Homo sapiens: one gene and its partner. The protein of the gene in region 2 purifies or fractionates together with the protein of the main gene of each other region. This does not show direct contact. Each region holds a gene or a part of one and is shown on either strand. Other genes may lie near its edges. The genes, in order: CBLL1 and KIF26B.

Region 1 (3,823 bases), on a different chromosome or scaffold from region 2:
AAATTTTAAATAAGTATGAAATAACTAAGGGAAGTATTGGAATACTATGAATTTAATATGATTATCTTGACAAATTGTTGAATTCTTATAAAATATTAAATAAAACTGAAAATTAGAATAATTTCTGAAAACTAATTCCTTTGGAGTGTTTGATACCAGTGAATTTACAGTTATTCTAGTTTATTAAGGAAATTTTTGTTTCTTAATAAATAGAACAAAACTGCTTATTTTTGAAGGCCACAATTTTTTACATAAAACTGCATTAATAATATTTATAATTTCTCTTTTTTTCCTGAGGCTCAGAGAGGCTTAATAGTAATTATTATTTCTGAAAATTGAATTATAATCATTAAAAAAATTTTACAATCCTAACTGTAATTTTATAGTAATTTTCACATTTCTTCCCTCCAAAAAAGATAGTTTTGCATTTGCCTTTAGAAAAAAAAAATTGAATTCAATAACATACCTGTGATGGTAGATGGCATGGATTATGCAGTGTTGCTTTGCTGAACATCATAGTAAAGAAATAGTAACAGGCTGTGAATTTAAAAATGTGCTTCTAACATCATTTAATGTATCCTTCTGATTGATTTTTAGATTTTTATTAGTTAATTAACTTGAAACTACCAGAGGAAGATGCTGCTTACGTTAAATATAGGACATACTTGTTATTTTACTGCATTGGAATAGTTTCAGGAGAAACAAGATTAAAAAAAAAACACACATAATTAAAAGTATTCTTCAGGAGTTTTTGACCTGCAGGGGGCTGGGTGTGGTGGCTCACACCTATAATCCCAGGGCTTTGGGAGGCTGAGGTGGGAGGATTGCCAGAGGCCAGGAGTTTGGGACCAGCCTGGACAATTTAGTGAGACCCTGTCTGTACAATAAAATAAAATAATTAGCCTGCTGTGGTGGCACACACCTGTGTTCCTCGCTATTCTGGAGGCTGAGGTGGGAACATCAGCCAGGAGTTTGAGGTTACAGTGAGCTGTGATCACACCACTGGACTCCAGCCTGGGCAACAGAGCAAGATCTGTTTCTTAAAAAAAAGGAAAAAAACGTGTGGGGACCATGGGTGAAATTTATAGGGTTTACACCTCCAGAAAGTATAAGCAAATGCATGTGTGTACATTTATTGGGAAAAGAGCCATAGTTTTTGTCATGTTCTCAAAAGGCTTTGTGATTGAAAAAGGTTATTATAATTAGTACTTAATAAATGTTCATTTTAACAGGTATTCTCAAGTGTCTTCTAAGCCTTATGTATAGGTTACTATATATATATATTTTAAAAATATTATAAGTTCTAATATGCTTAACTGTAATATGTCTTTGTTTACAGATTCCATGCAAGCATGTTTTTTGCTATGACTGTGCTATTTTACATGAAAAAAAGGGAGATAAGATGTGTCCAGGGTAAGATAAGATTATCATTACCTTTTTTAAATAATAAAGTTTTAGTGCAATGATTTATAAGTTGGATTAAAGGTTAGGGAGTGATGTAAATCAGGCAGGAGATGAAACATACAGACATGGCTAATCTTTTTCTGTGAGCCCAGCTTGTGTTAGGTTTCTCTTTAATATAGGGCAAGGTAGCCACTATCAGTCAACTCAAATTGGTCAAAATGAAATCTGTTTGCCATTATAGAAGTATTATTATAAACAAAAAAGTTACTTTTTTTAATGGGACATTAAAGAAGTATTAAGATATATTGAGAGCAAAGACTCCAGAATTAGAATTCCTGGGTTCGAATCCTTGTTCTGCTATTTATTAGCTGTTTTACTGTCATAGGCTATTCTTTATTGATAAAATGAGACTGATAATAGTACCTACCTCCTTGAGGTATTTTTAGGATTAAATGAGGTTTTATATATATATAACATATGTACACAGATACATATATATAGTAGCTGGCATATAGTAAGCACTGTATATATAAGCTCTTGTTACTTTCAAATCTGATTATTGTATTTGGAGTATGTCTTAGAACACCATCATTACATAGTCTCAAACAAGTTATAAAAAGCTAGGTCCATTTTGGGATGGTCTTGAAGAAAACAGAATAAGAATTTTTATATCAGTTCAGAATCGTTGATAAGGAAGGCTTAAGAAAGAATGAAAGATACTTGCTTGGAGTAGCCATAGGCTTCTTAGATCACTTATAACCTGTGCTTAAAGCTATACCAAGATTTGTGGTATTGATTGATAACAAAGCTGTGGACACTTGTCAGCAATGATTCCCTTTTATGGTGTAGGAAAATTTGACGTCACCAGGAGAGAAAGGGGTGATTTATTAACAGCTCAGTGACAACTAATTCTCTTGGCATGTTTTTATTAGCATTTTAAAGTAACAGATTATAACATTTGTTCTATGAATTTAAAAAATATTTTGTTTATAGAATTATAATTCAGAAGAATTAAGACATTAGAAATACATATCACTTGTTTTTTGGGTGTTTTCTCTCAGGCCTAATTTTTCAGCATGGTATACATTCATTTTAAGTTACATAGTAAATTTAATTGCTTCATCGGGATAAAGGATTTCAGATGTGATAAAACATTATTTAGAGGACTTTTAAAGGTTTCCTCTTTTGTATAAGTATTAAAAGGAAATTAAAAGGTACTTATTGTTTAAAGAAATTACTTCCCAAGGTACTAAATGTAACTAATGTACTGAATATTCTAATGTACTAACCTTACTAATGGACTTAAATGTAACAAAGTACTAAATGTCACACCTCACTTATGTGGTCCTTAGTAGCAATTTTAGGACAGAAGCCTATCTGGATTAACAGACCCAGATCAGGAAGTGAAGAAATGGCAGTCAGAGTTAAACAGTATATATTACTGTTCTTAAGCACCACCCAAGAGAAAGTGCTTCACATCTTGTTAAGGTGGAGATAGTTCGGAGTTTACAGTGAACTAGAAGCAAAAAGTGTGCCAGATGGCCACTAAAGGGAAGCATAATAACATCAATAAGGAGTGCCAGCCTTATAGTAAGGATGGAAAGATAGACACAACTCAAAATCAAGAGTATAGAGCCATTTAGTATAGTGTCAAATGACCTGACACACATATTCAATGATAATTGCTTATATATGTACACACACATATATTTATATATAGTGCTTAATTGGGGATTAAATACTGTCACTTTCATTGTTTCATTTGATATTAATATTCTTTTAGGTAATATGAAATAGATATAAAAACATTGTGAAGTAGGTAGATACTTTAACCTCATTGTATAAATGAAGAAACAAACTCAAAAATGGTTCAATGACTTCAAATTACTGAGCCAATACCAGATCCCAAGATCTTCAGATTCCTATTTCAGTCCTCTTTCCCCACTGTGTCAAGAAAGCTGTAATGGCAATTATGGATTAAATATGGTAAATGAAAAATAGTTATAATTTTGACCCTGAGTTTTTAAGAAAATGTTAAGTTAAATTTAGTGCTCACAAATTAGAAAGTTAGCAAAGTGTAAATTTGTCTGACAGTTCAGAAAAAACCCTTCTTTAAAGGACTTTTAGTAGTCAAGGCTTGGATTGAAATTGTTTGTTTAATGTTAAGAACCCTAATGATGAGGCTGATGTTACTTGTTGTAGTCCTTGCAATGTCTTCTACTTACTGTTTTCCACTTAGTATTATTTGCTCAACAAACAGTTATCACTCAATAATACCATACTAGTTTGAATTCCATGATTGTAAGTAATCTACCCGTTGGTTTTTTTCTTGCTGGGTTTTTTGGCAAATGGATGCAGAAGGTACAATTGTTTGAGAAAACTGGATAAATTCTAGGCCTTGGGAAGAATGAGGTCTCTT
Region 2 (3,823 bases):
TTTTTTTTGAAAGGGGCATAAAGAAAGTGAATTCCATTTCTCCCCCAAATGCTGTAATTGTGGTCCCTGCTCATTGTCAATTAGAGTCAAGGTACAAATATTTAGACTGGGCAAGCCGATGGCCCCACAGCTGCAGGCCATAAAGTTCCAGTCCACTTTAAAGTAAACACCCGTAAGCCTCTGAGTTTACAGGTTCAGTGATTCACGGGTGGAGCTGCCCCAGCCTCTGAGGTGGGGAGGGAGCCACCTTGGGGCGAGCCAGGCTTCAGAAGCAATCACCTGCGTGCCGCAGATGGGGTCCTCACAGAGGTACACGCCCGGGGACTGGCCGTCCTGCAGGCTGCCCGTGGCCACCTCCGACAGCAGGTCCCGCAGGTTCTCCTCCTTCCCCCACACTTCCACGGCGGAAACCCGGACTGAGAAACGGGCGCCGGTCTTTTCCTTGCGTTCGTTTATGAGCTTGAAGAGCCAAGAGATGGCACAGGGAATGATGCCCAGGTTCTGCATGGAATCATCCTTTCCGATCATGGTGTAGGATTTTCCTGGGAGAACCAGGGAAGGAAGAAAAGCAGGTTCAGTGTCCAGGCATCATTCCACGGAGTCTCCAAAATAGATGCCAAGGATATAGAAGAAAGGCACAGGGAAGGGGGGAAAAGGGAAGAGAAGGAACAAAAAGATGAGAGAAATAGTATTTGACAACAACAGAAGGCATTTTCTGGTATTACTAACTAAATGGCTACAATAAAGAATGCTGGTTGGGCTCAGTGGCTCATGCCTGTAACCTCAGCACTTTGTGGGGGCCAAGATGGGAGGATTGCTTGAGGCCAGGAGTTCCAGGCCAGTCTGGGCAACATACGGAGACCCTGCCTCTATGAAAAATTTTTAAAAATTATCTGGGTGTGGTGGGGCATGCCTGTGGCCCCAGCTACTTGGGAAGCTGAGGCGAGAGGATCACTTGAGCCCAGGAATTGGAGGTTACAGTAATCTATGAGCATGCCACTGTACTCCAGCCCAGGCAACTGAGAGCCATCTCTTAAAAAAAAAAGAAACAAAGCAAGAGCCCAGACATGTGACAAGATTAAATCACCATGTACCTTGAGGAGGACCCCAAATATCACATGCTATCCAGTTCCTGCACTGCTTTACACACAGTGGGAAGGCTGGGCTTTTTCATCATCATTATGGTTCTTTTTATAGTTACCCCCCAGATTAAGTCCACATATTCACACTTTATATCCTGTCTCAAGTTAAATGCTGTGTATATTTTTATGGCATGAGCAAATTCTATTAAAACCCAGATCACTGCTTACATCAAGATCAAGAGAAAGGGCTGGGGAGGACGGAAGTGCAGAGAGAGGCAATGGCTTTCTGTCCTGGCTGAGAACTGGCCTCTGTGAGCTCCAGCAAGGCCTCTGTTGGAATCTCTGCCAAGGGACAGTTTTTGAAGCTCCTCAATTCACTAAACATATCAAGCGTGTAAGGGCAAGGCCTGGGGAGCAGATGGCCACAGGTCAGAAGTAAGATGGGACTGTGGGGGGATTTATGAACCCCTTGTTGGGGGGCTCTGCTGCCTCCTTTCCCAGACGCTTCAGCGCTGGAGTGTTCCCGACGGTGTGCACTGCTTTCTCCAGACGCGCCCTGGGCTCTGGGCTTTGCTTGGAGGTTGCTCCTCTGGCTTTTACAGGGGTCCAACCACCAACCCACATCCTCATGGGTGCGGTGGTGCAAGGGGCCCTATCTGCTTCCCAAACAGCGGCTGCTCAGGAAATGAATATTTTCCTGCCTGCCTTCTGGGCTTGACTCTGACCTGGACCAAGTGGGAACAACTCTGCTACTTCTCTTTCCATCTATTTGGACTTGAAGGCTTTCCTACATGAATGGGTGTCCACCTACAATGAACAACATAGGTTTTCGTCGTATAACTTGTTATTGGTTATTCAGCTCAACACCTAAGAGAAACGCAGCCCTTCCTGTCATCAGAGAACTCTGGGAGGGAGACAGAGGAATGCATGGGATGACAGGGAGCTCAACGAGCCGCATGAGAAAGTGAAACTCTCACGAACCCAGTTTGGCGTGGCCGAAACAGAACACGCAGCCATCTGCCCCGTTGACCACAGACTGGATCACCTCTGCCACGGTGCCTGCACACACTTCAGCCTGTCAGACACAAGAGGAGACACGAGCCGTGAATGGACCTCGCAGCGGAGACACCACTAACAACGAAAGTGAGCCCACCTTCCTGGGGCTTCGGGTCCCAGTGTCACTGTGTTCCCAGGTGGGTTGGCCTCTGTCGTGAAGTTTTGGAGATGCTCAGAACCCCTGGCGACCTTCCGCCCTTTGCAAGCCTGAGCATTATGCACATGCACTGCAAACCACCCTTCTGCTAATCCGTGGTACGTTTCAGCGAATGCGTCTGTAGAGCAGGCAGGAGCAGGCTGGAATGGGGGCACAGTGTGCTCATGAACCTCATTCCCTTCCCTCATCTGCCATTCTGGGGTCCCGGATAAGGTCTTTAAACTCTCCACTCACCCTCTGCTGACACACGTATACATAGAGTTTATTAAACAGGCCAGGCTTATGAGAGGGAAAAAGGTGACCCACCATTTCACAAGTGAGACCTTGAGAAACACCGTAGTTCTCACGTAAGCAAGAGGTTTGTGATATATATCTGCTTTCTCTCCTGATCTCTTTCCTCATTTTCAATTCACACCTTCCTCATTTTTTTTTTTTTTTTTTTTTTTGAGACGGAGTTTCAGTCTCGTTGCCCAGGCTGGAGTGCAATGGTGCGATCTCAACTCACTGCAACCTCCGCCTCCTGGGCTCAAGTGATTCTCTTGCCTCAGCCTCCCGAGTAGCTGGGATTACAGGCATGTGCCACCATGCCTGGCTAATTTTTTGCATTTTTTTAGTAGAGAGGGGGTTTCACCACGTTGGTCAGGCTGGTCTCAAACTCCTGACCTCAGGTGATCCACCCGCCTCGGCCTCCCAAAGTGCTGGGATTACAGGCGTGAGCCACTGCGCCCGTCCCATGCTCCTCTTTTCAAAACCTGCCTTTTCTTCCTTTTGCTACAGATACATTCAACATATAGAGTATCAGTCACCACATGGTATGTTATTAGGTGTTCTTTGGCCGGGTGTGTGTGTCTGGTCTCCAATTTGATTATTAAATCCTAGACAGGGACCAGGCTCTCGATGATGTTTTGTATTTCCCCTGAACACCCGCTAATACAGAGCTCTGCGAGCCATCAGAGCTGTCGGTTTTGTGGACTAACTTGGAGATCTGGGAAATGTCCTTCTCTTTGTTTAGCACCTGAGACTTGTCACAGAAGCAGAAAGATAGCATTATTCGCTGTGCCCTGTTGCTTTCATTTCTGTCTCGGGGCCGGAGTCAGGGCTCGTGGGAGCTCCGGGAGGCAGTGCTAACATGGGGCTTTGCAGCCCTCGGGGCAGCGTGCCTCCCGGTGGGCACCTGGGCCGTGAATGTTGTTATTCAGCAGCACAGTGAACCCAAGTATTTGGAAATCAGTTTTCTCTCCTAAACTAAAATTGAAAAACCACACTTCCAACAGCTGTCACTTGTTCCAGGGTGGTCCCCAGCAACTCTGCGGGGGGCGGGGGGCTCCTCCTGGGCCAGAGGGGGTGGCAGGACAGGGCTGCTGTAGGGCACACAGGATCTTTCAAACCCCCCAGGACTTAGGCAAGGAGAGCCCAGTGCTAACCCTGAGACAGAAGCAGTAGCGTCTTGATGGAATTTGCCAGAGGCGTGTCTGCAGAGCAGGCAGAAGGCTGCCCAATGGACTAAGCCTTCTTTGGACATAAAGTG

What was found.
Region 1: the proteins of KIF26B (region 2) and CBLL1 purify together in Homo sapiens (affinity purification with mass spectrometry; one large-scale study listed by BioGRID and IntAct). This does not show direct contact.

What each region holds. Positions count from the first base shown.
Region 1 is NC_000007.14:107,754,079-107,757,901, forward strand, and holds part of CBLL1 (E3 ubiquitin-protein ligase Hakai), read left to right. Parts: intron 1-1,339; coding exon 1,340-1,413; intron 1,414-3,823. UniProt on the Homo sapiens protein: E3 ubiquitin-protein ligase that mediates ubiquitination of several tyrosine-phosphorylated Src substrates, including CDH1, CTTN and DOK1. Targets CDH1 for endocytosis and degradation.
Region 2 is NC_000001.11:245,605,985-245,609,807, reverse strand, and holds part of KIF26B (kinesin-like protein KIF26B), read right to left. Parts: intron 2,158-3,823; coding exon 2,064-2,157; intron 543-2,063; coding exon 280-542; intron 1-279. UniProt on the Homo sapiens protein: Essential for embryonic kidney development. Plays an important role in the compact adhesion between mesenchymal cells adjacent to the ureteric buds, possibly by interacting with MYH10.